2 separate regions of the Homo sapiens genome follow, and region 1 is linked to region 2. The links come from fine-mapping of genetic effects on gene expression. Tissue or cell type: cerebellar hemisphere. Region 2 holds a variant in brackets; the other region holds the start of a gene. All regions are shown on one strand. Distances are from middle to middle.

What was found. PIP is the estimated chance that this variant, and not a neighbour inherited with it, causes the effect.
Region 1: CD247 starts here. The variant in region 2 is fine-mapped to the expression of CD247 in cerebellar hemisphere (GTEx, PIP above 0.99). The same link has a PIP of 0.9 or more in cerebral cortex and prefrontal cortex.

The regions. Positions count from the first base shown.
Region 1 is chr1:167,514,748-167,530,172 of GRCh38, reverse strand. CD247 (CD247 molecule) reads left to right here and starts at 11,644. Exons shown (of 8, transcript NM_198053.3): 1 at 11,644-11,765. The coding sequence starts at 11,708. LOC107985224 (a long non-coding RNA gene) reads left to right here. Exons shown (of 2, transcript XR_001738279.2): 2 at 1-634. It also overlaps the pseudogene AKR1D1P1. RefSeq lists enhancers at 11,813-13,012, 12,284-13,247.
Region 2 is chr1:167,537,527-167,552,378 of GRCh38, reverse strand. CREG1 (cellular repressor of E1A stimulated genes 1) reads left to right here. Exons shown (of 4, transcript NM_003851.3): 2 at 4,258-4,377; 3 at 6,094-6,278; 4 at 10,078-11,366. The coding sequence ends at 10,081. Among named protein-coding and RNA genes, the nearest start is that of CREG1, 8.8 kb to the left of the region's middle. RefSeq lists a cis regulatory region at 3,794-3,811 and enhancers at 3,730-3,874, 11,877-12,377. The variant A/G (reference allele first, on the strand shown) is at 6,344.

The DNA of each region.
Region 1 (15,425 bases), 22 kb after region 2:
AGCATTTCTGTGAGAAATGGGATCCTAAGGTGGCCTCCAAGATTGACACGCCATGGTACAATCTTCGTGATCGTAAGAAGAACCTGTGAATACGATGAGCTATCACTCCTGTGCTTTTGCGGTTTTATGTGGCAAAGGGAGAGTGTTCTGGGTGGGCCTGACCTGATCAGGCATATCCTCTAAAATCAGAGTTTTCTCCAGCTGGTTCCAGAAGACTAAGTCAGAGAGATGCTCTGTGTTTGGGCCAGAAGCAAGCAAACATCCACATTGTGAACTGCCTATGGGGGCCACCTGGCAAGGAACTGCAGGTGTTTTCTGGGACCTGAGAGCATTCCCTGGCCAATCATTAGCAGGAAAACAGGAACTCACTCCTATAACTGAGAGGAAATAAAATTTACCAACAACCAATGAGCCTGGAAGAAGACCCTGAGCCTCAAATGAGAACTGCAGCCCCAGCCAACACTGATTTCAGCCTTGTAAGTACCTGAGCAGAGAACTCAGCCATGCTATATCAGGACTTCTGACCTACATTACTGTAAGATCATAAATGTGTTGTTTTAAGCCACTACATTTGTGATAGTTTGTTATGCAGCAATAGAAAGCTAATACAACTTCCAAAAATTCTACTGTGTAAGTCAGGATCCTTTGGTTGCAAGCAACAAAAATCAGCTCTGGATAGCTTAAGCAAAAAAGGAAATTGGCTGGAACAGTGTTCGTGTAGCCACAGAATATGAGCAACTTCTGGGATGGATCCAAGAAGGAGAAACAAACAAGGGTTATGTCCAGGTCTTGTTTCATTCTGTTAAGATTTAAAGTCCGGGGAGAAAGCAGCTGATTGACATTACCTGATAGCCTCATCAAGCGATTATAATCGGCCGGCACGGTGGCTCACGCCTGTAATCCCAGCACTTTGGGAGGCCAAGGCAGGCAGATCACCTGAAGTCAGGAGTTCGAGACCAGCCTGACCAATATGATGAAACCCCGTCTCTACTAAAAATATAAAAATTAGCTGGGAGTGGTGGCAGGCACCTGTAATCCCAGCTACTCAGGAGGCTGAGGCAGAGAATTGCTTGAACCTGGGAGGTGGAGATTGCAGTGAGCCGAGATTGCACCACTGCACTCCAGCCTGGGCGACAGAGAGAGATTCCATTAAAAAAAAAAAAAAAGAGATTATAATCGTGGAGAATAGTTGACTCTTCAAAGCAAAATTGATACTATTGCTAGAAGATGGGGGTCTTGATGCCAGGCCTACAAAAACATCCCTGCATTAATATGTTCTTCCCCTAATCAGTTACAATGGCGAGGAAGACAGAATACTCTAATGGAGCAGGTTTAGTCATGTGACCATCCCTGAGCGCAGACAGGCTAGGGGTTAGCTCCACTTGTACTGCATGGTCTGGCCAGGGTTAATATGGGGGTTGGGGGGAGGAAGGGATGCTGGGTGTAAATATAAGCATATAATGTCTATTATGGCATCCCGTTTACTGAGAATCAGAGCACTTCAGTTGCAGTCTGGACTCTGAAACTAGCTAATTCTATATCTTCAGTAAGTCATGTTACCTTTCTGGGTCTCAATTCTCTCATTTACTAAATAAAGGTTAGATTAATGATTTCCAGTCCCCATCTAACTGGGACAATGGTCTGTGACTCAGTATTTAACACAAAGGTATAAATAACTGATAAGGCTTTATATATCTCTCAAGGGCATTTGCTTCTGAATGGAAGAAAAGTGTTTAGTCAGTGGTGTGCTGGGGCATACAGAATGAACTTTCATGTATAATGTCTGCCCCCACCACAGCCAATTTCAAGTTACCAATGATTTAACAACCAACTGGGAAAATTCCTGAAAATTTAACAGTTGGCTCTCATGTGCTGATATCAGCCAGCTCCCACACACCATTATTATAATTTTAGCCAAAAGAGTGACTCTCTAAGCATGTATTTTTGGGTGGATATTAGTAGGTGAGTGGAGAGGGTGTGTTTTAGGGATCAGAAATCCACTGAAATTACATTCTATATGCAGTCATATCCTGGGCCACACTCAAAGTCAGCCAAATTCAGCTCAGATAAAGACTGGTGCTGGGCGTGGTGGCTCACACCTGTAATCCCAGCGCTTTGGAAGGCTGAGGCAGGTCGATCACTGGAGCTCAAGAGTTCAAGACCAGCCCAGGCAACATGGTGAAACCATGTCTTTACAAAAAATACAGCAGAAAAAGTTAGCTGGGTGTTGCAGTACACACCTGTGATCCTAGCTACTCAGGAAGCTGAGGTGGAAGGATCGTTTGAGCCCAGGAGGTCGAGGCTGCAGTGAGCTGTGATCATGCCACTGCACTCCAGCCTGGGGTGACAGAGTAAGACCCTGTCTCAAAAAAAAAAAAAAAAAAAAAAAAAAAAAGGACCAGCAGTTACTGATATGTCAGTTTCCTCAGCCTCTACTCCCAGCCGGTGGGGGCTCCTTTAGGCTCTTTAGGCTCTGCCCTCTCCTCCAGCTTTGGTCAGACATGAAAGAGTCATGGAGCCCAAGGAGTCCATCAGAGCCATAAGATGTGGATCTGTGTGCAGGTGGTGGTGGGAGGGGGCCATGCTTGGCCCAAATGTAGCATCTTAGAAGGCAGATTCTACCTGGGATTGTCACTAAAGGGATGCTTGGCCCTTTCTGCAAACCCATTCCCCTCATTCCCCTCTCGATAACAGTAGTTGGGGTCATGCCCCCTCATTCCTTCAGTAAATTTTAACGGAGCACCTTTTATGTTCCAGGCACTGCATTCAGTTCTGGCCATTCAAATTGCCTAAGACATGGTCTCTAACCCCGGGGACTGAACTTCCCAGAGAGCATTTAAATTTTGTTTCCTGCTGCTCTCTACCCCATCTGGTTTTCGGGTCAGGAATGGTCTGGTCTCTCTCTCTCTCTCTTTCTTTCTCTCTCTCTCTCTCTCAAATTAAATACCAACTATGTACTGGACACTAAAGATTACAAAATGAATAAAACTCCGTCCATGCTCTTGAAGAGCTTGGATTATCATTGTGTGAACATCTGTGTAAACAAATAACCAAGGCAAAAAGTGACAAGTGTTTTTTAACACAGCACTAAACAATATGCGATGGACATAGCTAATAGGTTTAGTAGGTGTGAGCCAGGCTTCACAGTGAAGGGATATTTACACCTTGTCCGAGACCAAGCTCCTGGGTTGGGGAAAGGAGAGAAGGGCCTTCAGGCAAAAGGATTCCTGTGAGCCAAGGCTTGCGGTCACAAAAGGAGGGGCTCATACACAGGCTATGACTGGGGAAACCTCGGGTTGAGGCTGAAGAGACAAGGCTCCACCGAGGTGTTTGGCTGGGATCCTGCCAGCAGAAATGCACTTTGTGAGGGAATAGCCTGTGTGGGCCTCCAGCTGCTTGCCAGCCCTGGACCAGTCAGCTGAAGGGAGGCACAGGGCCTGGGTCAACATGCTGGGGTCTCAAGGGCTAGGGAAGTGCTTCCCCTCACAGGGGTCTTGGGAGAGGCTGTCTCTGGACACCCCAAGGGACAGAGACCAATCCTCTTTTTTGTGCTGTTTTCTCTGATGATCAGGAGCCAGGGAATTGCGAGGCTCAGTGCCGAGTCCCTGTTGCCTAGAAGGAGCTGTTGTAGAGAAAGAACCCCAGGGAAATCTGAATCCTGGGAGGGCCCCTTGGGAGCAAGTGGTTGTGGGAAGAGACCCAGCTCACCTGAAGCACGTTGGCGCCTCAGAACAACCTCTCCTCTAGGTGCAGACAAAGCTTTCCCACTAAATTCTGATGAATCGACCCAAAGAGCAAAAAGGGGTATTTATTGGCTCCTGTGACTGACAAGGGGGCAAAATGGGAACCATCCTTCTCTTCCTGTCTCTGGGCTCTGCTTCCCTCTTGTTGGCCTCATCCCGTCAGGCTCTCTCCCGGTGGGAAATAGACGGCCTCCACTGCTGCAGGCTGCACTACCCCACGGTCACCATTCTCTACGGGAAAATGGTGCCCCTTTCCCTGGAGTTCCAGCAAGAATCTTGAAAATGGCTCTCATGGGCCCTCCCTGAGCCGGTCTTTGTAGACAGAAGGATATGATGCCTGATTGGCTGTCACAGGGTCCATGCCCACACCGGGAGCCAGCCAGCGGCATACATCCCACTCCGTTGAGGGAATATGCGCTCCCCTCCAAGGGAAACGAGGTTGCTTCCAAAAAAGGGAGGGGAAAGATGCTGGACAAGTTAAAATAATTACTTCACCAGCATTACTTATTTGGAGAATTATGAGAATTTATTTAGCACCAGCATCTTCCTCTTACCACATGGCTGCTTATATTCTGCTTGGCCCTACACTTTAAATTGTTCCTGCTTGTAGCTGTAGCCATTTGGCTTCCATCAGTTCAGTCCCAGTCCTGAGCCCCAGTCCCTTCCCCCATACCTTGTCTTTACATTTTCTTTACGCTACCCAATTTTCCAGTCAGCCCCTCAATGGCAGGGGCCCTTCTCTGTAATGACAATGACAACTTTTCCAGCTAAAATCTCCATTCACCAGCTTCTGGGTTTCCCTTACTGTGCTCTTCCTGAGAGGAAGTTGGGGCATCCTCCTACATAGTATTGGACTTCCTGCCATCCTGAATGTTACCAGCCACCCTCCTACTCATTCATCCATCTAGCCACTCACTCACTGAGTCGCCCAACCATCCATCCATCCAACCATGCATGCATGCATCTATCCATCTATCCATCTACCCACCCACCAAAATATATCAGGAAGCAGGGATTCAATCATGAGGAAGAGCCAGAGCTTCCACCATGAGAAACTCACAGCTGCAGGTCATCATGTTCTATCCAGCTTCCTCTCAGCTCCAGCTCTGGGCCTTGCCTGTGTGCCCCTCTGCAAAGCGTGAGCCTCGTTCTAGTTGCCAACCCCATCCCACTGCACACACCAGGGCAAGGCTGGCTGTCGTGGACAGTCATTGTTCTATATATGCCCAGAATCCTTTCCCCTCATTTCTTCTATTACGAATGATTCTGCTAAGGCTGTAAACCAGAGTTTTCCAGCTCCAATCTCGTCTTGACCCCCTGGAAGCACTGGTTTATCCAAAAAGTGGGCATATGGCCCAAGGTGGGCCAATTAGGGCAATTCCTGAGATTGATATGGGGATATTGAGTATTTTGTTATCATTTGGTATGTCACAATCCTCCCAAACTCAGTGGCTTAGAACGACAACCGTTTTAGTTCATGATTCTGTCGGCCAGCAACTTAGGCTGGACTCAGGCAGTGCTTTGTCCGGTCTCATCTGGTGTCACCCACGTGGCTGCAGTCCTCTGTTGGTTCAGCTGGGTCTGGATGATGTAAGAGAGCCTTACTTGTCTGGAAGTCAGCGCTGGCTGTCAGCTGTGCCACGTGTCTCCAGCGGGTTAATACAGGCTTCTTAGTGTGGAGACTGGATTCCCAAAGCGATAAGAAATATGGCAAGTTCCAATGTGCAAATGCTATATAAGTCTTTGAGTTTTTTAAGATGAGAGAAATAACATGCTTGTATACAGATAGGAATGATCCAATTTAGAGGAAAATACTGACATGCAGGAGAGAAAAAAGAGAATATCTGGGGCAATTTCCTTGGGAAGCAAAGGAAGACGGAACCCAGTGGAGAAGCTGATAGCAATCTGATATGTATTCATTGTAATTTTAATTTCGATTTTTTCCTACTATGAGTGATTTTGGTAATCTTTCATTCATTTGACAGCTATGTGTTACTTTTTTTTCCCATGAACTCTCTGTTCAAGTCCTTTTCTCATTTTTTTAACGTTGTTTTAGACTCCCGTCAGCTTGAACATTTCACGAGGGCAAGGATTTTGTCTATTTAACTCCCAGTTATATCTTCAGTGTATAGTACCATGCTTGGCACCTGGTGGACACTTGAAAATTATTTGCTAAAACTGAATAATGTTTAGGTGCTCTTTATGTATTAAGGAACTAAGCCCTTTGTCACAGTGCTGCAAGTACCTTTCTTAGTTTGTGGTTTGAAATCTGTTACAACAGATTAATTCAGATTTTGTAGAATTTCCTGTAAGTAGAATCTTTCAATATGTACTCTTTTTGCCTGGCCTCTTTCACTCAGTATATTGATTTTGAGATTCAGCCATGTTGTGTGCACTAGCAGTTTATTTCTTTTTATTGTTCAGTATTATTTCATTGAATGGATATACCATAATTAGTTTATCCATTCATTTGTTGATAAATATTTGGGTAGTTTTCCAGTAGTTTATTACAAATAAAGCTGCCATGAGTGTTGATGTACAAATCTTTATATGGACATATATATATATATATATATTTTTTTTTTTCTCTTGGTTAGATACATGAGTGCAATGGCTGGATCATATGGTGAGTGTATGTTTAACTTTCTAAAGAAACCGCCAGATCTTTCAGAAATTGTTGTACCATTTTACATTTCCCCCATCCGCGTATGAGAGTTTCAGTTCTTTCATATCCTGGGCAACACTTGATAACGACCAGTTATTTAATTTTAGCCATACTAACAGGTATGTAGTAGTATCTCATTGTGGTTTTAATTTGTTTTTCTTTAATTACTAATGATGTTTAGCATCTTTTCACTTGCTTATTGGCCATTCATTTATCTTCTTTTGGGAATTGTCTATTCAAACTTTGTGCCCATTTTCTTATTGAGTTGATTACTTTACTATTGAGTTAAAATAGTTCTTTACATATTCTGGATATAAGTCCTCTGTCTGATGTATGTGTTTGGACATAATTTCTCCTAGTCTATGGCTTCTTTTTCATTTTCCTACTGCTGTCTTTCAATGAACAAAGCAAAAACTTTTAATTTTGATAAAGTCCAGTTTACCAATTTTTTCTTTTATGGTTTTTACTTTTTGTGTTCTATCACAAATATTTTTCTCCTATGTTTTATTCCAGAAATTTTATAGTTTTGGGTTTTACATTTAGGTCTATGAACCATTTTAGATAATTTTTGTGTATGGTATGAACCGAGGGTCAATTTTTTTTCCATGTGGATATCCAGTTGTTCTACCACCATTTGTTGAAAAGACTACCATTTCCTGCTGAATTTTTCTTGTACCTTTATTGAAAACCAATTGACCATATATGTTTAAGTCTATAGTACCCTAAGTACTGTATGATAATTACACCCCTTTTATTGTTTGATATCTGGCAGGGTTATTTCACTCTCTTTACTCTTCTTTGCAAGAATTTTCCTAACTATTCTTGTGTTTGTTTTAGCATTATTTTTGTATTGAGATATAATTCATATAACATAAAATGTGTCATTTTAAAGTGCATACTTCAATGGTTTTTAGTATATTCACTCTGTTGCACACCATCACCACTGTCCAATTCTAGAACATGTTCATCATCTCAAAGGAACCCTCATAGCTATTGACAGTCCCAATTCCCCACTCTCCCCATCCCCTGGCAACTACTAACCTGCTTTCTATCTCTATGAATTTGTTTATTCTGGACATTTTATATAAATGGAATCATACACTATGTAACCTTTTGTGCCTGGCTTCTTCCGCTTAGCATAATGTTTTCAAGGGTCATCCCAGTTGCAGCATGTAACAGTGCTTCATTCTTTTTGATGGCTGAGTCATATTTCATTGTTTGGATACGGCGCATTTGCTTATCCATTCCTAGTTGTGGCCATTCGAATTGTTTCCAGTTTAGGGCCACTGTGAATAATGCTGCTATGAACATTCCTTTACAAGTTTTTGTGTGAGCCTAGGTTTCCGATTCTCTTGGGTATATATCTAGGAATAGAATTGCTGGGTCACATGATACTATGTTTAACTTTTTGAGGAACTGCCAAATTATTTTTCACAAGGGCTTCACCATTTATATAACCCACAAAAATGTATGAGAATTCCAGTTTCTCCACATCCTTATCAACACTTGTATTGTCTGTTTTCTTATTTTAGCTATCCTAGTGGGTGAGAAGTGGTATCTCACTGTCGTTTTGATTTGTATTTCCCTAATGACTAATGATGTTGTACATCTTTTCATGTGCTAATTGGCCATTTGTATGTCTTCTTTGGAGAAATGTCTATTTACATCTTTGGCCAATTTTTAATTGGGTTATGTTTTTTATTGTTGAGTCATAGGGGTTATTTATATATTCTGAATCCTAGACCCTTATCAGTATATTTACAAATGTTTTCTTTCATTCTGTGGGTTGGGTTGTCTTTTCACTTTCTTCGTTCTTTCTTTTGTCTTTCTTTGTCATCATATTTCATGATTTCTTGTGAACAAAGTATTGTCTAGAGGACAAGCATTGTAAGTATTAACATCGGAATCAGTGAAAACAATCAGTATAGATCAAGTTTTTAAGTGATACTTTCTCAGAAATGTATGTGTACAGGTCATTGAAGATTATCTATAAGCAATTGGTCTTGGAAAAGCATAATTTTTGAAGAACTCTCTTGCCCTGTGAGAGTGATCTAATATGAATGAATAAAATATATTTCTGTAGTTGAACTGAAAATAGGTACATCTCTGTTGTTGAATTCTAATAATTTTATTCTCTTTAAAAATTTACATAGAGTACAATTACCAGTGTTCTTTTGAACGTGCTATTTTCTCAAAATTCACATAGCTATCCCAATAACACTCTTAAAGACTTAAGCATAGTACTTTTATAAAGCCTCTTCTTTCAATATGTCTCCTAAAGTCCCCTTATAAAATGTCTTGTTTTAAAATAGCCGTCTTTGGAATACTTTATGATGCAGAGTTTTATTTATGTATGTTGGTTGTTTCAAGCCACTTCACGTAATGGTGATTCGATGATCAATGTGGCAAGAGTGAATATAAGACAATGTAAGTATGGACCACTAGTTATGTTGAAACTCAGACCCTCTGAGGATGCAAAAGAGAACCAGCAAGTATGCATCCTTCAAGCTGAGTAAAAGCTAAACAAACATACATCGGATAGAAACAAACAACAATAAAATCCTTATGGCTTTGTTGATCACTGTGGTGTTTAATTGACTCTATTTTAAGACTTTTCTACACTTAGCCCTCTCTCCCTACTCAAGGTGCAGCAAATCACTTTTTTGTTAATAATGCATGTCTGGATCTTATCTTGGCTGTGTCTGTATTGCAGTCAATGGTTCAAGTCCTCAAGGCCACTGCCAGCACCCTGGCACATGGGGGCCCTCTGCTGTCTTTGTTGTCCTGTTGACTGCTAAAGAACTCAGGCTAACAATGTTACTACCCACATTCATGAGTTACTTGTTGCTGGTTGTCATCTGTTGCCTTTCAAGTCTTTTCTGGAATCTAATTGTTTTTTGTTTGTTTGTTTGTTTTGTTTTGTTTTTGGTCTGGAACCCAGAAGACATTTATCTAATAAAATATTAGGTGATAATTTCCTAAGAATTTCAACAGATTTAAACATTTTGTCTTTAACATGGGTGAGTTAAAATCACTTACACTATACAAAAGTTAAGCATGTTTCCATCACCACTTTTCAGATAATAAAACCTCTTTCATTTCCGTGTCCATGGGGAACTATGCACCCTAAGGTCCTCCACACGTGGGAGGGGAGAATCTGTTCAGGAACTCTCTGAAGTCAGTATTCATCAAGAAATGGGTATTTGGGATGATCACACCACATGAGCATTTCTATGAAGCGGACATTTTCACTCCAGGCTTCAATGTCCTTGATTCAGTGAGAGAAAAGTCAAAGGCCTGAAGGTTTTCCTTGATCTTTTCAGGATTAAAGCTTTTAGGAATGACAACCACCCCTTGCTGGATGTTGAAACGCAAAATAACTTGAGCTGTGATCTTATTGCACCTTTTTAGAAGTGCATCCTTTAACGAAGGCAGAGAAGACATATTTGTCCAGGTTGGATTCCTAGTGGTCCCCAAAGGGCTATATGCAATCATGACAATGTCATGTTGTTGGCGAAATTTCAAAAGTTTTGGTTGGGTGTAATATGGGTGGCACTCAACCTCGTTGCTGACTGGCTTGGGTTTGAGTCCTGGGTTGTTCTGGATGAGCTCCAGCTGGCCTGCTGTTAAAACTGGATACTCCGAGGGATTTCACCAAGCCAGCATCTTTACAAGCTTCCGAAGTCTCCCAAGTGGCACACAGATTTGACTTGTGATATAACCATTTGCCATTCTCACCTATAGGGTAGATTTTGTCTTCTGGCTTAGCGGCCATGGGTATTTCAGTGATGTAAAGATCCACACAATCTAGCTGGAGGACCTTGAGCATCCTCTCTAGGCTCGGGCAGACCAGCTCTGGGTTGTGATTTGTAGCCCACAGTTTTCCACAGTAGAAGATATCCTTCCTCTGCACCTTTCCTTCTGCTATTTTCCCCCTGATGGCCTCCCCAGCTGTGTCTTCATTTTGGTATATGTAGGCTTCATCAGTGTGTCAGCACCCCAGACCAATGACAACCTTCACTGATGAAGACTCAGACTAAATGTAGAGACAGACTACTTGGGCTGTAGTGACATCTCTACCTACCACCTACTTGCTGTGTGGCCTTGAGTAAGTCATCGGCCCCCTTAGGGGTCAATTTAGGCTCTGAGTAGGTACCAAGTCTGATGATGGGAATGCTGTTTCCATCACTTAGAGGTATGCGGTGATTTGCAGGACTCACTTTCTTCATAGTGTCCTTTGATGCACAAAAACTTTTAATTGTGATGAAGTCCAATTTATCAATTTTATGTTGGATTGCTGTGACTTTGGATTATTGGCTATTCTTGTACATTAATTTTTTTCATATCAATTTTGGAATCAGCTTAACTTGTTCTAAAACTTTTTGTTGGTATTTTCAATGAAATAGATTGATTAATTAAGAGAGAATGGTGGTCTCCTTAAAAGAGAGCTTCCTATCAAAGAAGGGTATGCCTTTCCATTTACCCAAGTCCTTTCGGCGTTCTTCAGCAATGTTTTAAAGTTTGTTTCATATAGATATATTACAATTTTTAGACGAAGTTTATGTCTAGGTTTTAATGTTTTATTATTGTAAATTACTCTGGTGTTTAAATGTTGACAACTAACACAAGTGTTTAAAATACTATGTGAGCTACAGTATTTCACACAATGATCCAAATTCAGGCCAAGTTCAGATCTGCAACCTCAGATCTACTCCAGCTCTTTGCTTTATAGATAAGGAAGCTGAAGTCTAGAGATGTTGAGTGACTGACTCAACGCCACACAGCAAGTAGGTGGTAGGCAGAGATGTCACTAAAGCCCAAGGAATCTGTCTCTACATTTGTCCTGGACTCTAATCCAGGGTTCTGTCATTTTGCCAGCCACCATAAAATATTTGACAGTCTAGGAAAACAGCAAATGTTCTTACATCCATCGAGAACTTGTATTTGCCTAGAGATGGACTTTACCAATCAAGATAGGAATTAGATAAGAATTATTTTTTTTAAAAAAAGGAGCATTAAAACAATGGTCAAATGAGAGAAAAAGCAAAATTCAGACAGACAGATACATACACACACCCCAAACCCTCAAACCTCCAGGGCTTCCTGCCTGTGAACCGAAAGGGGGAGTGCGAATTTCTTGGCCCTGTCGGCAGGTGCTTTCTCAAAGGCCCCACAGTCCTCCACTTCCTGGGGAGGTAGCTGCAGAATAAAACCAGCAGAGACTCCTTTTCTCCTAACCGTCCCGGCCACCGCTGCCTCAGCCTCTGCCTCCCAGCCTCTTTCTGAGGGAAAGGACAAGATGAAGTGGAAGGCGCTTTTCACCGCGGCCATCCTGCAGGCACAGTTGCCGATTACAGGTAGGGCCGACGTGTCGACGGCAGGGAACTTCTAGAAACTCTTTGTGTATGTGTAGGGGAGTGGGTGTGGGTAGTGGAGGGTGGTGAGGGGCTGGGGTCTCCTTCAAATCCTGCCCTCCTCAAATCAATGGGCAAGTGAGCAGTGAGGGGTCCGGCCCGGTGCTGGCATCTGCTCCGTCACAGCCGAGTTGGGCATCAGTTCAGAGCCAGCTGCTAGAATACACAGCTCCTCCAGGTACAGATTTTTCGAGTGATAAGAGAGGAAGGAAGAAGGAAGCAAGAGAGCAACCGAGGCAGGCCCAGGGTAGAGAAACGGAGAGGGAGTGTTTCACAGAAGCTGGACAGGATCGGAAAATGTCAGCCAGGCCATGTTTCGTGCTGCGACGTTCTAGTCCCTTCAGCTTCTTTCACCCTCTGGCTGGCTCCGTCACTCAGCCCCTTTCTTTCTTCCTTTGCCAACAAAGAAGATTTTGTTGGTCAGTCAAGGTCATGGCCTGAAACACTCCAATGGGCCCGGGAGTAAGTGGGGTAACCAAGGAGGAGAGGGGCACAGGCAGGAAGCACCGGGTGGCAGCCTCCACAGCGCCTTCGCCACCTCATGGCCAAGCGTCCGTGTCTAGGCTCAGCCTTGTCATGGCTGTCCCCACACCCACGCCTGGGACTGCCGGGTGACGCACCATCCCAGGCTCCGTGACTCACCCCAGCCTGCCCCTTAGGCGGCCATCTAGCCCAGCCAGAGGGCCCGGCATTGACAGAACACGGGGCAGATGAGACGATGTGCCTGGTTAAGTCACCACCACGAGCAGCGCCCAGCCAACAAGAGTGCTTGCTCCTCACCTCATTCCCGATCGTGGGAGCCCAGCTTTGCTGCAAGCCTTTAGCTTCCACCATGTTTTCTAGCCCAGGTAATGAGGAAGAAAACCAGTGAAAAGAGGACAGGACAAACTGCTCAGGGGGATCAGCCTCGTGGCATCTTCCTGAGAAGTGGGGCAGGCTGAATTTCAATCTAAAGAAACAGGGAAGGTGAAGCAAGCAAATGTCCTCGGCCCACCTGATCGCTCCTGGTAACTCACCTGGGTGTGGGAATTTGTTTAGGGGCCCTGTTGGGAGGGCAGGAGAGGCCATGGGCACTTCTGCTCCCACCAGGGAGCCAGGCACAGCCCGGGCCAGCGCCTCGGGGGATTCTGAGGCCCGTGCAGCTGCAGGGGTTTCTGTCAGGTCACAGCTGTTTTCTCAGAAAAGCCTTGTGGGGTCTAAGTCACACACACAGTGTGGCAGAGTGAGGGTGCCTGAGCTTGCTCAGAGCAGCCCATCCTTGTGTGCTGGGGACAAGGGGACCCAGAACGCTGGAATTTAGTGACTTCAGGGGAGACAGCCAGGGGCAATAGCTCCAGCCTCTGAGCTTCAGGCTTGAGACACCACACCAGGGAGCTCATATAACCTTTCAGGGTCTTTACCTGCAGTTTCCTCACTGGTCCATTTGTGTTCGGCTTGGAGAGACCAAGGTAGGGGCAAAGTGAAGTTAGAAAGAAAAATGAAAGATTGTTGGGTGGCGGTGGCTGCCAAGCGTGGTAAACAGAACCCCACCCAGCAGACAAGATGGGGGCCGTGCCTCATTTCCACAAATAGGGGGCAGGAGGAGAAAACTGCACATTGGCTGGATTTTTTGCTTCTCAGTGCCACTTACTTTGCCTCTATGGAGACTGATATTTTAGCTATTTTAGATAAAGCTAATAGACAAAAGTGTTTCAAAATATCCTAGCCCAGAAACGAGGTACGGTAAGGCAAAGCGCGACTCAGAGAGGCCTTGACACCGAGGGCTGCGATGGTGCTTTTGCTGCCTGAGGGGACACCTCCACAGTCTCCCCGGAGGAAAGGCCGCACATAGAATTTCAGTCAGGTCTTCTCTCTTTTCTTGCTCAGTTAAGTGACCCATTGCATACATCCCTTTTAAAATGTCTACTTTTTACTAAGCTGTTGCATTTGCATTTCTTTGGAAATGCCCAGATTATTAGGATCAAAGCAAATGATGACCTGGTCTGTCCACATGAGGAGGCCTCCCTGAGAGAGAATCTACCAAGACAGTCACCAGGGCTTGAGGCCAGAAGATCCTAAGATGGCGTGCCTAGTGGCATGGGCACACTTGTGCCTGCAGAGCCCTCAGTGCCTCTAACTCCCTACTCTGCAGTAGCCAAGAATGCACCCAGCGGTCAGTGTGGTGTTTGTCTTTTATCAGTGAGGAGATGGAGCTCTGACATGCAGCCTTGGGGAATGCAAAGCTTCCAGGCTTGTGAGTGGCTCTGCTTTTAGGAAGGTGGCTGGACGTGGTAGAAAGAGCCAGGCTAATTTCAGGTGGTGTCCCAGTGCTGCCGCTTCCTAGCTGTGCAACCTTAGGCAAGTTACTTAACCTCTCTGGGCCTCAGTTTTCTCACCTCTAAAGAAAGACTTGTAATACCTTCTTTGCAGAGATGTGACAATGAGAAGTAATGTAATGTGTCCAATACATAGTAGACAGCCAATAAGTAAACATTGTATTTACTATTACTATTATTACATCTCGGACTGTCTTCTTGTTCTCAAAACAGGAGATGGAAACCCATGGCTGGGATTCTTCATTTGCTTTCAATATGTTATAAAGCAGCAGTGGGCATTTTCTCCATCTGTTGCAATCCAACTCATCCCTCTTCTGATTTCTGGGCACACCCATACCAGCACAGAAACATAACAATGATTGCAGAGGTAGGCCCGATAGTGAAAAAGCAGCAAAGCTCTGGCTGGTCATAGGATGACTGTTACATCCACCATTTTCATTTTTTAAAGATACTTACTCTGTAGGGGAATATTCTCCCGAAGTAAAAACATGTCTGAAAAAATATATGCAAGATGGGGGCTGTGCCCCATTTCCACAAATAGGGGGCAGGGGGATTGGCTGGATTTTTTTACTTCTCAGTGCCACTTACTTTGCCTCTGTGGAGACTGACATTTTAGCTATCTTAGATAAGGCTCATAGACAAAAGTTTTTCAAAGTATTACTTTGAAAGGAATCAGAAACAAAATCCACCCAGTCATCACTGGTCCGGGTGGCCACCTAGATTCTGAAGCCAAAGGGCTATTGTGGGTGCACAGCGACTGAGTATCTAAATGCAAACTTCTTGAACACTAAATCTTTGCTAAAATTGCTGGGAGGTGAATGTGAGGCAAGCTTTTAAGTGATACCAGTACAAATTTTTCATCAATGGCATTTTCACCATCAGATTGTTTCGCCCTCCAATCGCCTAGCTCTGCTCATCCAAATGAGCTATTTCATTTTTCAATTTTAGCGTTTCTCAGGCTTACTAGCCTAGAGATCACATCTGCTTCTGCTAAGCATCCCCCAGAAACGGTCCTGGGGAGCTCTGGCTTAGGTGAATAACCACTGCTGTATTTAATTTTAAATTCTTTGTATTTTTGCTTTTGTTCTTTAAAAAAATACATGTAATTATTGTTGGATATATACTTTTCCAGTCAAAAGTTACCCAGCATTGTGTCTTGTGCTTTACTTAGAAGGGTCCAGTTGCCCTGAGGGAACTCTCTTAGATTAGAGTTGTCCAAACACGCACTTTGGGAATCGTTTCTCCCAAGCCTTATTTATCTAAGGCTTAGGACCTTATATAGGTCAGA
Region 2 (14,852 bases):
TTTTTGACAAAGCTCTCACATTTGAGTTCAACTCTGAAAGTACAACATTGTTGATAAAGACAGGATGCAAGAAACTGATGCTTGATTAATCACTTTTCCATTTGCCTTCCATTCGTTGTCTCTTCTATTAATTCTTTGAAGTAGGTATTATATACCCCATTCTGCAGATGAAGAACTTGAGGCCTACCTAGGTTAAGTAACTTGTTTAAAGCCAGCGGGCAAACCCCTAGTTTCATCTCAGGTTCATCTTTCTTCAAACCACCTATCACAGGCTGGTGGCCCATCAGCTGAATATGTCCCACAGACCGGTTTGGCCTACACAAAGTTCTGTTTTGTTTTTAATAAATTTGAATTTGTTACCAACATTTTAAAATTTAGATTTTACTTTAAAATGTAAATCTCTAACTTTTCTTGAAAAATGGGAAGATCCAGTGACACTGTGGGCCTGCACTCTTTGAGCAAAAACAGAAGCAGTGCCCTCTTTTAGCTAAGGCAGATACACCCCAGTTCACCATTTTCTTATTCCCAGCCCATTCCACACCTTTAGGCGTTTGCTCAAAACAAACTCACTCCACTCCATCAGTGGTGCTCAACTTTGACTGCAAATCATAGTCACCTAAGAAGGCTTTAAAAATGGGATGCCAAGGTATTTTATTGAAAGCACATTTTATTTTAAGACAACACCCCTTCCCGCCTCCCCACAAACCACTCCCTGATGATTCTAATGGGGGAGGAGGGAGATTGACCAATACATAATCATATTTAAATTTGTGAGGTGACTAGGGAGTTGCTGGTATTATTGTCCCCATTTAGGAAGTGAGGAAACACAGACTCAGAGGTGCAGGGACTTACCCTGTGACCAGTCAGCTAATGGCTGTCAGGTAGGACATTAGCCCAGGTCTTTCATGTTTCTAGAAATAGACAGGGCAGTGGCAAGGAACCTACCCAGGGCTTTAGGTTTCCATGATGGCAGTGAAAAGAAGTGGCCACATTAGAATTTGTCTGACTTGATTCCATCAATTAGCAGGTCAAAGTTTCTGCTTTTTTCTTTTCCTCCTCCTGACCTCCAGGGTGCTCTGCATTTCTTCTCATTGACAGGGGGTGAAATCGTTCAGAAGGAACAAAAAGACCTAGGTTTGGGACCATTTCTCATGTGTAAAATACCTGTCCTCTGTAACTTAGAGATATGTTGTGAGCTTCAAACGTACTTACCACTGGGCTGTTTCTTTTGTATGTCTCTTTCTTTGTGGCATTTTTGTATAGTAAATGTCTGTAGGACAGTGTTGCTGATGTTAGCTTATAGTGGGACCGTGTTTGGCTGCAGAGCCAGTGAGTCTGAAGGGAAATCTTGGGGTTTGATTATTTGCACCAAGACCTCTTACTATTAGCCTCCCTTCCATTTTGGCATTCTTTTCTTGTGATGTGCCCCTTTCTGTTCTGGTCACTCTTGGTTTTTTTTCTCTGACCCACTAAAATAAGTATCCCTCAAAGTCAGTTTCCTACTCTTTTGTTCCCTGCAGCGATCCTCAGAAGATTGTATACACTCTCGTTGTATACATTCTCTTCTAGTCCTTACTAGGACTCACTTCCAGATGTGTGTCCATTTCTGACCTCTTCAAAGTTCTCTATATTTCTGCTTGCTGTTCATTTTTGCTTCGTTACTTTGCCACCACTTCAAATTCAACATGTTTAAATCCAGTCCTTCTTCCTCCTGAAACAAGCTGCTTTTGATCTTCTGCATTTCTGTTAGTGGAATTATTGTTTTCTCAGTAAACCCAGTTGGTTCTCACTGCCTCCCCAAATCCCTCAGTTCCCAAGTCCTGACAGTTTTTTGTTGCCTTCTTTACCTCTGTCCTTGCCCCTTCCTCTTCATTCCTGCCACCTCATCCTTAAGCTTATCATCTCATGCCTAAAAGTACTAGAACAGCTCTTACATAGTCTTCCTGTCTGCCCCATCCACCTTGCCTACCCAAATAGATTAACAAAAATACCTGTCACAGCATTGCCCTCTGGCCAGAAACCTTTAACAATACCCAGCTGCCTATAGCTGCGTAAGAGCTACCTGGGATGTTTGTTTAAAATGCATATAGAGGCGGGTGCGGAGGCTCCAGCCTGTAATCCCAGCACTTTGGGAGGTCGAGGTGAGCGGATCACCTGAGGTCAGGAGTTTGAGACCAGCCTGGCCAATATGGTGAAACCCACCTCTACTAAAAATACAAAAATTAACTGGGTATGGTGGTGTACGACCGTAGTCCCAGCTATTTGGGAGGCTGAGTTGAGAGCATCAGTTGAGCCTGGGAGGCAGAGGTTGCAGTGAGCTGAGATCACGCCATTGCACTCCAGCCTGGGTGACAGAGCTTGATTCTGTTTCTAAATAATAAAATGCAGATAGAGGACAGCTTGGTGGCTCATGCCTGTAATCCCAACACTTTGGAAGGCCGAGGTGGGAGGATCACTTGAGTCTAGGATTTTGAGACCAGCCAGGGCAACACAGTGAAACTCCATGTCTACAAAAAATAAAAAAATATTAGCCGGGTGTGGTGATGCACATCTATAGTTCCAGCTACTCAGGAGGATGAGATGGGAGGATCACATGAGCCCTGGAGGTTGAGGCCACAATGAGCCATGATTGTGCCACTGCACTGGGTGGCTGCCTGGGTGACAGAGTGAGACACTGTCTTAAAAAAAATATTGCAGGCCAGGTGCGGTGTCTCACGCCTGTAATCCCAGCACTTTGGGAGGCCGAGGTGGGTGGATCACAAGGTCAGGAGTTCAAGACCAGCTTGGCCAACATGATGAAACCCAGTCTCTACTAAAAATACAAAAATCAGCTGGGCGTGGTGGCACACACCAGTAATCCCAGCTACTCGGGAGGCTGAGGCAAGAGAATCGCTTGAACTTGGGAGTTGGAGGTTGCAGTGAGCTGAGATCGCACCACTGCACTCCAGCCTGGGTGACAGAGCAAGACTCCGTCTCAAAAAAAAAAAACAAAAAAAAATTGCAGTTATTTGGGTTGGGAGTGAAGCCTGTTTCAACATTTTAACCCAAATCAGCATTTTATCAAGCTCTCCAGGCAGGTGGTTCTTAGAAAACAGTGCCTAAGGTTGGCCCACAAATTACAATCTAGACTCCTTAACTTAGGTTGGAGCCCTCTCCACTCCCAACCCCAGGCTCCTCCCGTAGGAAAGCCCTTCTTTCCAGCAAATCAGGTTTCTTGGTACTGTTCATCAAGTCTTAGGCTCACCCAGTTCTGTGTTTTTTGCAGTCAGTGTCTCCTCTCCCTTTAATATGTCCTCCCACCTTCTATCCTGGTTTTGAATATATTATAAAGCTCCTTACAGTTCCTCTATCACTCTGGTCTATGCTGGACATACACATTTGTTTATGTCTGCCTTTTCAACCAGATTATAAACTCACGGAGGGAGAGAGTTTACCTGAGTGTCCCCCTCCCCTTCTTTGGTCTCCTGTGGTGCCTTGCCTAATAGTTTCTAGACAGTGACTATTTGGCTAAATGATTTCAAAGAAATCTCTTTATGACTCTTTGTTTTGATGGGTCAGTGTGAAATGGCAAAATTCTCCACACAAGGCACTTAGAGCTTAAAGAGCTAAATAGTCTAAAATGCGATGTGTGAATTTTGCTATAATCTGTCAACAGTGCCTTTTATGAAGTTGATTTCTGAATAAGAAAGCATTAAGAATTTTACTTGTGTTACTTTTTGAATGTGGGATAAAACTCATTGTTACTAAAGCAGGAATGAACAACTTCTCCAGTTTTGAAATCACATGACAGTTTCTGCTAATGTAAGATAACCAAGTAGCATGATTCAGCTACTTTCTTGCTTAAATCGCGTAGTTAGCCAATTGAGCAACTGTGGTGTTTTTAGCAATGGTTTTGTATAGAGTTTAACCCTTTAAATCTTTCAGTGAAGCCTATAGAACAGCCTTGAATTTGGGTGTCACTATAATTATAATTCTTCTGATGAATATGGAATAAATTCAGGGTTTCAGAAAAAGAATATTGAAATAATTTTTACCAAGTCAGTTCATTTTAAATATGAACCCCCGCACCCCCTTTGGGGAGTGGTCAGGATACTTTCCAAGTATTATTTTCCCCTGAGTGGAAGGTGATGTTTTATGATTCATTGTTTCGTGGAAGACCAGTCAAGCTCTAGGGACATCATGTATGCAACTTTTGAAATTTATTACCTCTCCAGAAACCATATTTCACATGAGAGGATCTTCATTTTCTCTCTATAGGAGAATCCATATGCTACACTGACCATGACTTTGGCACAGACCAACTTCTGCAAGAAACATGGATTTGATCCACAAAGTCCCCTTTGTGTTCACATAATGCTGTCAGGAACTGTGACCAAGGTAAGTAGTTATCCTACAGGAAGGGAGATGGTTTCAGAACACCATCGTATTCACAATGAAAGAATAGATCATTTTTCTTTTGAGACAGAGTCTCACTCTGTCTCCCAGGCTGGAGTGCAGTGGTGTGATCTCGGCTTACTGCAACCTCTGCCTCCTGGGTTCAAGCGAGTCTTGTGCCTCAGCCTCCCTAGTAGCTGGGATTACAGGCACGCACCACCACACCCAGCTAATTTTTGTATTTTTAGTAGAGATGGGGTTTCACCATGTTGGCCAGGCTGGTCTTGAACTCCTGACCTCAAGTGATCCACCCACCTCGACCTCCCAAAGTGCTGAGATTACAGGCGTGAGCCACTATGCCTGGCAGAATAGATCTTTTCAGAATGAAATGCAGTTGATTTGTGATTGCCATGCCCAGTCAGAACATGTTCTATTCTAATAGGTGAAGTAATTCCATGAAAACCAAACGTTTTAATAAGTTGCTTTCATATAGGTGTTAAATAAGATATGACAAAAATGAATGATTTTCTGAAGCCAAGCAGATGTAACAACTATGAAGCTCCTGTATATAAAGTTATTCTTACTAAAGAGCATCTGGTTGACCAAAGCCCTCTACTCTCCATTACATTTTACATTGGTATAATGTTTTTCCATGTCTGGGCTCCTTGTCTCCATATTTTAACAGTGGCTTAAAGCAGAGAAAACATATTAAGTAGGCCAACCAGAGGACTATCCATTACTGAAAACTGGAAGTGAATTTAGTTTGGATCACCTGCTGAAGGGAAGAGGTCAAATACAATCTCAGGAAGAGCAGTGGGCATGGTGTCAGGAGTGCTGATCTGATTACCCAGCCAGCAGATTTGCTTTTTGACCGTGTCAATCATTAATGCCTCAGACAAGTGTTATTTATGGTCTGTAAATTCTTTGTGGATGCATCTCTGTAGTTGAGTGTCCTTCACTGGCAGGAAAAAGATGGAGGAGCAGCACATGCTTTTGAGTTCTGTTATGTGGTTTCTAAACATTTTTATCCTTCAGTACATTCATCTGTATGTTTAACATGTCCATGTTATGGGATAAATATGCTAAACATTACATGTCTTAGGCACCAGTAATGTTACAGTACTTAGTGCTAGTTATTCTAATAGCTCAAAATGCCTTTTTACCAATGAAAGTTGGTATTATACTTACAGTGGTTTCCCACTTCGTGGTATCTGTTATTACCAACAATTGAAATCTTTATTCTCTGCATTCTTTACATTTCCTTTATTTTCTCTTGATTCCTTAAGGTTAAGATCAAGATTTACAAGTAAGTAAACTCTTAGGATTTATAGAATGCTAGAGTCACACATTCTTTTTTTTTTTTGAGATGGAGTCTTGCTCTGTCATGCAGGCTGGAGTGCAGTGGCACGATCTCGGCTCACCGCAAGCTCCGCCTCCCGGGTTCATGCCATTTTCCTGCCTCAGCCTCCTGAGTAGCTGGGACTACAGGTGCCCACCACCACATCTGGCTAATTTTTTTTTTTTTAGTAGAGATGGGGTTTCACCGTGTTAGCCAAGATGGTCTGAGTCTCCTGACCTCGTGATCCGCCCGCCTTGGCCTTCCAAAGTGCTGGGATTACAGGCGTGAACCACTGCACCCGGCCTAATCACACATTCTTAACAAATGAGAAGATAAAGTGTTACTGCCATAAGAATGTTTATTTCATATATGTCCTTTAGGTGAATGAAACAGAAATGGATATTGCAAAGCATTCGTTATTCATTCGACACCCTGAGATGAAAACCTGGCCTTCCAGCCATAATTGGTTCTTTGCTAAGTTGAATATAACCAATATCTGGGTCCTGGACTACTTTGGTGGACCAAAAATCGTGACACCAGAAGAATATTATAATGTCACAGTTCAGTAAGTACTTACACATCTTTCACCTAAGATTGCCGCCCTTACAGCCATCCTCAGCCTTCTAAGGC[A/G]AGGGGGGTTTAACCGTTTCATGTGCCCTGGACACCCTGGGCAGTCTGGTAAAGCCGCTGACCCCTTCTCAGAATAATGTTTTAAACACATAAAATACAGAGGATTAAGAAGAAAATCAACTATAATGAAATACATTTATGAAAATATTTGTAAATGTGTGGTATAATCGTTTTATTAATATATTAAATATAAGATCTAGTAATAAGTCTATTACTTTTTCTTTTTTTTTCAAGACAGAGTCTTACTCTGTCACCCAGGCTGAGTGCAGTGGCACCATCTCAGCTCATTGCAGCCTCCACCTACTGGGTTCAAACGATTCTTATGCCTCAAGCCTCCCAAGCAGCTGGGAATACAGGCATAGACCACCACACCCAGCTGATTTTTTGTATTTTCATAAAGAGGGTGGTGTCGAACTCCTGAGCTCAGGCAGTCTGCCTGCCTCAGCCTCCCAAAGTGCTAGGATTACAGGCATGAGCGACCATGCCTGGCCTTTTCTGTGCTTTTAAAGTAGTGAGGATTGAAGACAATATTTTAAGACATCTGCAACACCTGTGACATGATATGAACGTATCTGTGATTTCTCTATTTCTGTTGGAGACAGTCACAGATAGGCTGTCACCCTGTGGTTTATTCCCTACATTCATTATTGAAGGAAATGATACATTCAGTTAGAGCCTAATGAAAATGAAAAAAAAATTTTTTTGAGCCAAGTTCGCAGACCCCTGAACTCTGTCTACAGGCCTGGACACCAGGTTGAGACTCCATTTTAAGGCTGTGCTTATTGGGCCCTGAACAGAGCCCAGTTATGACCCACGATGGCATTTTCTCATGAGGCTTAGACTCAGGTGCTCCTGGACTGTGAATGCCCTTCATCTGAGTCTGAGCAAGTAACCCCATCCCATCAGCCCCAGTACTACAAATGCCTATGGGGATGTGTGGTTTATCCCACTAAGAAGTGCATGGAAGGGAGGAGGCTGAGATAAAAGAGGCCATGGGAGAAAATAAAGCCCAGGACCTGAAGACAGAAAGGGAAAGGAAAGAAGAGTGTAACTGGAGTCTTTGGAGTTAGCTAAGGGTTCAAATGAGGGAATACAAGGGACTGGTGCTTCTCCCAGGTGACACAGGGAATTCTGGCATATCTGGGGAGGTGATAAGAACAGTAACAATAACAGCTAGTGTCCATTGTTTATTACTGGCTGGGTGCTATACTGGCTACTTTTCATGTATTAACTCATTCAGTTCTCACCACATCCCTTTCTTGCGCAACCTTCCACCGCAACAGGTAGGTGCTGTTTTTCCACATGTGTGAAATGGAAAGCTGATGCACAGAGAACAAACTGGCCTAAACTGTTTGTTCTTGCAGCCAGGAAGTGGTGGTGCTGGGACTCAAACCCAGGCATTCTTGCTCCAGAGCCATCACCTGACTTCTATCCATGATGCTGTACTTCTCCTCTGGCTGCCTCACTGGTAGCTGGCCAGGCTCCTAGCTCAGTGTAATTTATAATGCACTTTCTGCTTGTAATGATTGACTGCTGTTTCAGGAGATTACGGTGATGATAACTAAGGTAGACTTGTAGGTTGTAGGTCATTTGAGGGCTTAAATTCTTAGCATTTATTTAATCTCTGTCTTTTTCAATTGTAGAACAATTCCGTGTTGAACTATTGACTCCCTACCATGATTGGAAATCTCAGTTTTGTTTTGTTTCTAATTTTTTTTAATTCCAAGCAGGGCCTAGGACAGTGTGTGTCATAGAGCAGGTGTTTAGGAATGATTGTCTGGCTCATTACTTGAGACAAACACTCTCACACTCTGTTGGAATAAAGAATCCCACAGTCCTGGCGCTTGTTTTGCTGCTGTGCATGCAGGAGAGGCACGGGCCACTGGTCGTCTTCTGGGCTGGCAAAGCCATCTGACTTCATAGGAATATAGAGGTAGCAATTACAACTTTATTCCCTGGCAACAAATTATCAGGATGACTGTTAAGAAGGGCCTGCTCTTCGAAGTTAAAGTTTACTTTCACAGGACATAATCTCTAAAGCGCAGTTATCTTTATATAAATAACATGCCCAAAGGCAGTGCCTGGTTTAATAACAAAATAAAACTGTTTTCCCATAAGTCTCCACACTGAATAAGTGAGTAAAACAGATACTTTTGAGGTTCCCACTTTATTATGCTGACAAAGGAGCACTTCTCTGCAGCACAGAGATAGAACATTTTTCCCTTGTCCTGAGAGGCGGCCCAAAGGCTAGAGCAGATGTGACTCTTCTGAGGCAGTGCACCAGAACCCGAGGGATGGGCAGGGCCTGAAAGCTGCCCGCTCTGACCGGGTGCCTCTGGCTAGGAATTGTCCATCTCCGAGTCTAGGAGTGCCCCCACTAATCCCACCCGCCAGGTTTGCCACCAGAGCTGTTTAATAGTCCGGGGAGTGTACAGTGATATCTGTGAGGACCAGGGCCCCCATCTTCTTGGAGAACCACCCACAGGGGCCTCACAGGCGTTCTGGAGCTTCCCCACATTGGCAGCCACCTTGCTTGGCTTGCCCAGATCGGTTTTGGAAGGTATTATTCCTCCAAATACCACGAAGCCCTCTGCATCTGAAATCTGTTTCACACAGATGGAGACTGCCACTTGTGAGAGCTGATACGGAGCTTAACTGAATGTGGTTTGCCTCATTGGACTGTTGGGTGAAGCCCCCATGAGCATGTTTGCATGATCAGTGGAAGGCTTAAATGTCTACACGAAGCATTTGCTGGCACCCTGGAATAAGCAGTTCTTTTTTTTTTTTTTGAGATGGAGTCTCACTCTGTTGCTCAGGCTGGAGTGTGGTGGTGCGATCTCAGCTCACTGTAAGCTCTGCCTCCTGGGTTCATGCCATTCTCCTGCCTCAGCCTCCTGAGCAGCTGGGACCACAGGCACCTGCCACCACGCCTGGCTAATTTTTTGTATTTTTAGTAGAGGCAGGGTTTCATCATGTCAGCCAGGATGGTCTCAATCTCCTGACCTCGTGATCTGCCCGCCTCGGCCTCCCAAAATGCTGGGATTATAGGTGTGAGCCACCGCGCCCGCCCAACAAGCAGTTCTTATAAGCATAAGCATTGCTTTTGACCACTGTTAAGTCTGGGCAGCAGCATGTTTGTGCTAAGCCTCATTTTATCTCCTCTGGCGCACATCCGGATATTTCCTAGCAAACACACAGGTAACAAAAGGTCATGGATTACAGACTTGCCCAGTCTTGATACCTAGAGATGGATTCCCTGGTTGGTGGCAGCAGAAAGGGGGAAAGTTCACCTCCCAGCTGTGGTCACTATCACTGGGCAATGGCTAATCACTGCTCTTCTGCCCTGATGTTCAGGACCCCTTCTGTTCTCAACTATTTTTGTCTTTTAAGCCTTCAGATACTCTTAAATGAGATAACAACAGCAGCCACGGCAGTGGCCTGCTTCTTGCTACATCCTAGTAGCGTTTATCAGTGTGTCAGAATCATACTTGGAGAGGAGGGTTATTGCTAAAATGAGGATTCCTAGGCCCCACCCTCAACCTATTGAAACCGAAACTCAGGAGTCTGCATTTTAACAAACCCAAGTGGTTATTTAGTATATTCTAGTGGTTGAAATGAACTGAAAATCTTAATTTAGATCAGAAATTTTATCTAGTCCTTCCCTAGAATGAATTAATTTTTAAGATTTGTTAACCCAGTTTAACAAAATAATTCTTCTCTGTTCCCCTTTCTAGGTGAAGCAGACTGTGGTGAATTTAGCAACACTTATGAAGTTTCTTAAAGTGGCTCATACACACTTAAAAGGCTTAATGTTTCTCTGGAAAGCGTCCCAGAATATTAGCCAGTTTTCTGTCACATGCTGGTTTGTTTGCTTGCTTGTTTACTTGCTTGTTTACCAATAGAGTTGACCTGTTATTGGATTTCCTGGAAGATGTGGTAGCTACTTTTTTCCTATTTTGAAGCCATTTTCGTAGAGAAATATCCTTCACTATAATCAAATAAGTTTTGTCCCATCAATTCCAAAGATGTTTCCAGTGGTGCTCTTGAAGAGGAATGAGTACCAGTTTTAAATTGCCCATTGGCATTTGAAGGTAGTTGAGTATGTGTTCTTTATTCCTAGAAGCCACTGTGCTTGGTAGAGTGCATCACTCACCACAGCTGCCTCCTGAGCTGCCTGAGCCTGGTGCAAAAGGATTGGCCCCCATTATGGTGCTTCTGAATAAATCTTGCCAAGATAGACAAACAATGATGAAACTCAGATGGAGCTTCCTACTCACGTTGATTTATGTCTCACAATCCTGGGTATTGTTAATTCAACATAGGGTGAAACTATTTCTGATAAAGAACTTTTGAAAAACTTTTTATACTCTAAAGTGATACTCAGAACAAAAGAAAGTCATAAAACTCCTGAATTTAATTTCCCCACCTAAGTCGAAACAGTATTATCAAAACACATGTGCACACAGATTATTTTTTGGCTCCAAAACTGGATTGCAAAAGAAAGAGGAGAAGAATATTTTGTGTGTTCCTGGTATTCTTTTATAAGTAAAGTTTACCCAGGCATGGACCAGCTTCAGCCAGGGACAAAATCCCCTCCCAAACCACTCTCCACAGCTTTTTAAAAATACTTCTACTCTTAACAATTACCTAAGGCTTCCTCAACTGCCCCAAATCTCTTAATAGCTTCTAGTGCTGCTACAATCTAAGTCAGGTCACCAGAGGGAAGAGAACATGGCATTAAAAGAATCACATCTTCAGAAGAGAAGACACTAATATTATTACCCATATACATGATTTCAGAAGATGACATAAGATTCCTCTTAAAGAGGAAATGTCAGGAATCAAGCCACTGAATCCTTAAAGAGAAAAGTTGAATATGAGTCATTGTGTCTGAAAACTGCAAAGTGAACTTAACTGAGATCCAGCAAACAGGTTCTGTTTAAGAAAAATAATTTATACTAAATTTAGTAAAATGGACTTCTTATTCAAAGCATCAATAATTAAAAGAATTATTTTAATGAAATGTGTTGGATTCGTTTTCTTAAACATAGACATTAATATTTATTACACTTTGTTTTATTGTCTACTGTCGAAATAGCATGTTCCTAAATCAGTCACTGGCTGTTTCAAAACTTGAAGTGAATAATACCACTCTTTCTAATTGGCAAAAAGCTCATTGTGTCCTAAAATTCTGGGCATGGCCAGATCTAGCCTTTGTCACAGGTTCTGCCTCAGGGATTTGGTTGCCAGTGTACCTTGTGATAGAATTAGGTTGAGGGCAGCTATTTGGTTTTCTCCCTTTACCCACTTAGTGAGTTTTTTCTCCAGCATTTGGAACCACATAAATACATATCGACATTCAGGTAAGATCTAGTTATCATACAGAGTAAAGTCAACCAGTGTTTCACAGCAGGCAGATTCTTTTATAATTGAATGTGCCAGAATATGTCACTGTTAATATTCCAGTTAGCCACTAGGGGGCACTGGACTACTCTTTGTGCAAGTTTGGGTTTCTTACACAGCCAAATCAAGCCCCTAGGAATAATGCTCTGGGTTAGGAGCTGGAGTAAATGCAGCTCAGCAGGGGCAAGAGGAGAAGCAGAGGCCTGATTTGCTGCTGCTGCTGCTGCTGCTGCTGCTGCTGCTGCTAGGTTTTCCTGGGTTTATCATTCCCTCCACACCATGTGCTTCTACATCAGGCTTCTGGTCTCCTTGCACCCCACCTGCTGCAGAAGGAGAACAGATCCCTGGGCTCAAACAGCTAGGAGATGAGTATCTTAGACTGGGGTGGGGAGGGGGAGTCAGCCTTGGTGCAGAGAGCAGGACAGGCCCTGATAGAGAAAGATAAAAGTGTAAAGAGGGGCCGGGCGCGGTGGCTCACACCTGTAATCCCAGCACCTTGGGAGGCTGAGGCAGGTGGATCACGAGATTAGGAGATCGAGACCATCCTGGCTAACACGGTGAAACCCCATCTCTACTAAAAATACAAAAAATTAGCCGGGCGTGGTGGCAGGCGCCTATAGTCCCAGCTACTCGGAAGGCTGAGGCAGGAGAATGGCGTGAACCCGGGAGGCGGAGCTTGCAGTGAGCTGAGACCGCGCCACTGCACTCCAGCCTGGGCGATGGAGCGAGACTCCGTCTCAAAAAAAAAAAAAAAAAAAAAAAAAAAAGTGGAAAGAGGGAGTAGCTCAGGATCCTGAAGCTACAGAGTCCAGACAGCTGCGTTTGGCAGATGCTATCTTGACCATCCTTCTGCACTCAGCTGGTCAAGGCCATTTGTCTTTACCAACCATGGCCAATAATCATAGTTTATTCTGTGTTCTAGTCCAGGTTCAAAGTCCTTGACAGGTATGTGGGGGAGTGGAGAAAAATCTTTATGAAATGTGACGAAGTTCAATGAAATAAATGCATCAGATATTCTGAGGAGGTTGCTAGTGTGATGTTCCCTTCTTAGTAGTATTTAGACTGAAGATCACAAAGTAATTGAAAAGGAGACTACTTTCTTTTAAGGGAGCATGTTTTTCAGTTTTAGTACTGAGGAAATAATGCTCTAATTTGTGTAATGCTGGTTGGTCAGTGTTTCCTAGGGGAATTCCAAACTGTCACTTCAAAACCAAGTGTTCTATAAATATTATTAGAGAAGATAATTATAATTTAATTATAATTCCTTTTGGAATTAAGGGGGGTACAAATCAGTAAAATGTAAATTTTTCAGTTTTTTCTTTAAGATTTATTGTAAGACATTTGTATAGGAAATGTGGAGAATAAAAAGTTTGACATTTATAACCTCACCAACCAGCATGGTTGCTAATATTTTGGGTGTGTTTTCTTGGGAGTGATGTTTAAACATAGTCAAGATCTTGCTGTTTAATGAATGTGTATCATGCTTCTTTCACTTTATCATAAACAACCGTGTTCCTAGAAGCCATTCACGAGGATGGCTGAGAATGGCTGCAGAATATTTCATCAGATCAATATAAGCAGGCCACCAAATAATGGTCTGCATTGGGACTCTGTTGCTAGTGACAAGAAACCTAAGTCAAAGTTGTTTAAACAAAAAGAGTTCATTGATCTTATATTATTCAGAACTTGGCTTTCATTTCCTGGCTCCTCTTTCTGCCGTGTTAGTTTTCATTGCAGCCAGCAATCTTACCACCAAGAGGATGTGTCCTTCCTAGCTGGGCCCTAGCCATTCCCGAATAATCACTGTGTCTGGGAATGGGGTGCCCTCTTTGGCCGAACTTGAGTAGTGTGGCTTCTCCTGGAGTTGCGGGTTCACTCAGCACCATCAGAATCACAGAGACTGGGAGAATGTAGAAGGGGGACTCCTGCAATGAAAAGAGTGCTTATGCGAACTGAAGGAACACTGAGCAGGCAAAAACCAAAGGCTATTAGCATTTTCTCCAGTTTTTGCATATTTAGGTTACTTTCAGTTTTTTCCTCTTAGAAAAGTCTTACACATAAAATATTTTCTACATTTCTGTTTATTTCCTTAGATTCCCAGCAGTGGAATTTCCAAGCCAAAAGCTTTTGGTACATGTTATAAATTGCTTTTAAGAATGTGTATCAATTATAATGTCCAGTGTTTGCTTTAAAACATTCTAGCAAAGAAAAAAGTATAGGGGATTAGATGAGGAGAAACTGGCAAAATGGTAACAGTTGAAGCTAGGTGAGGTGCCTGGAGATTCATTTTGCTATTATTCTCTTTTGTGTATGTCTGAAAATTACAAAGATTTCTAAATTGAATTGAAAAAAAATAAAGAATTGAGGATCTAGAGAGGTTAAGTGACTTTCCCAAGCCCACCCAGTTCTGGTCTCCAGGCTTTAAATCCTGGCCATTTCTTCTACTCCACACTAAATTGGCATGTGGTCATATTGTCTGAGACACAGATTATGCCAGCGTAAGGCTTCCTGACTCTTCTTCACCCCGCAACACACCAAGGCAGGAATGCAGAGCTAATCTATGTTTGTGGGTGGGGAGGGGGCATGAGTAGTGGGTGCTAGGGAGCTAGATAACAAGTTTGGCTTGGTGATTCAGGAGTTCAATAGAGATTTCTTGAAAGGATGTTTTCAGTAAAATTTTGGAAAATACATAATAATGGGGGAGGGGAGAGAATTTATATCAATGAACAGCCCTGCAAGCAGTGTATGAAAGTGCTTACTCTGCGATGGGTTAAAATAGTGTGTTATTTTAATTGGCAATTCTTAAGGTTACTAATAACATTGAACATTAAAATTTATTTTGGTTTATTTTTCCTCATTGAAAACTGTCAATTTATATTCTTTGTCCACTTATGTTTGGGGGATCATTTTAAAAAATTGATCTTGCTGAATTCTGTATATTCAGTCTATGAAATCATTTAGTTAGTAAATTTGTTGCTAATACTCAGTTTTCCTTTTAAGTTATTTTGTTTAAAACCTATAGATTTTCCATTTCTATAGAAGAAATTAACATAATATTTTTCCCTTGACTTCTTTAAGTTTAATTTCCTTTAAACTTGGTATGTTT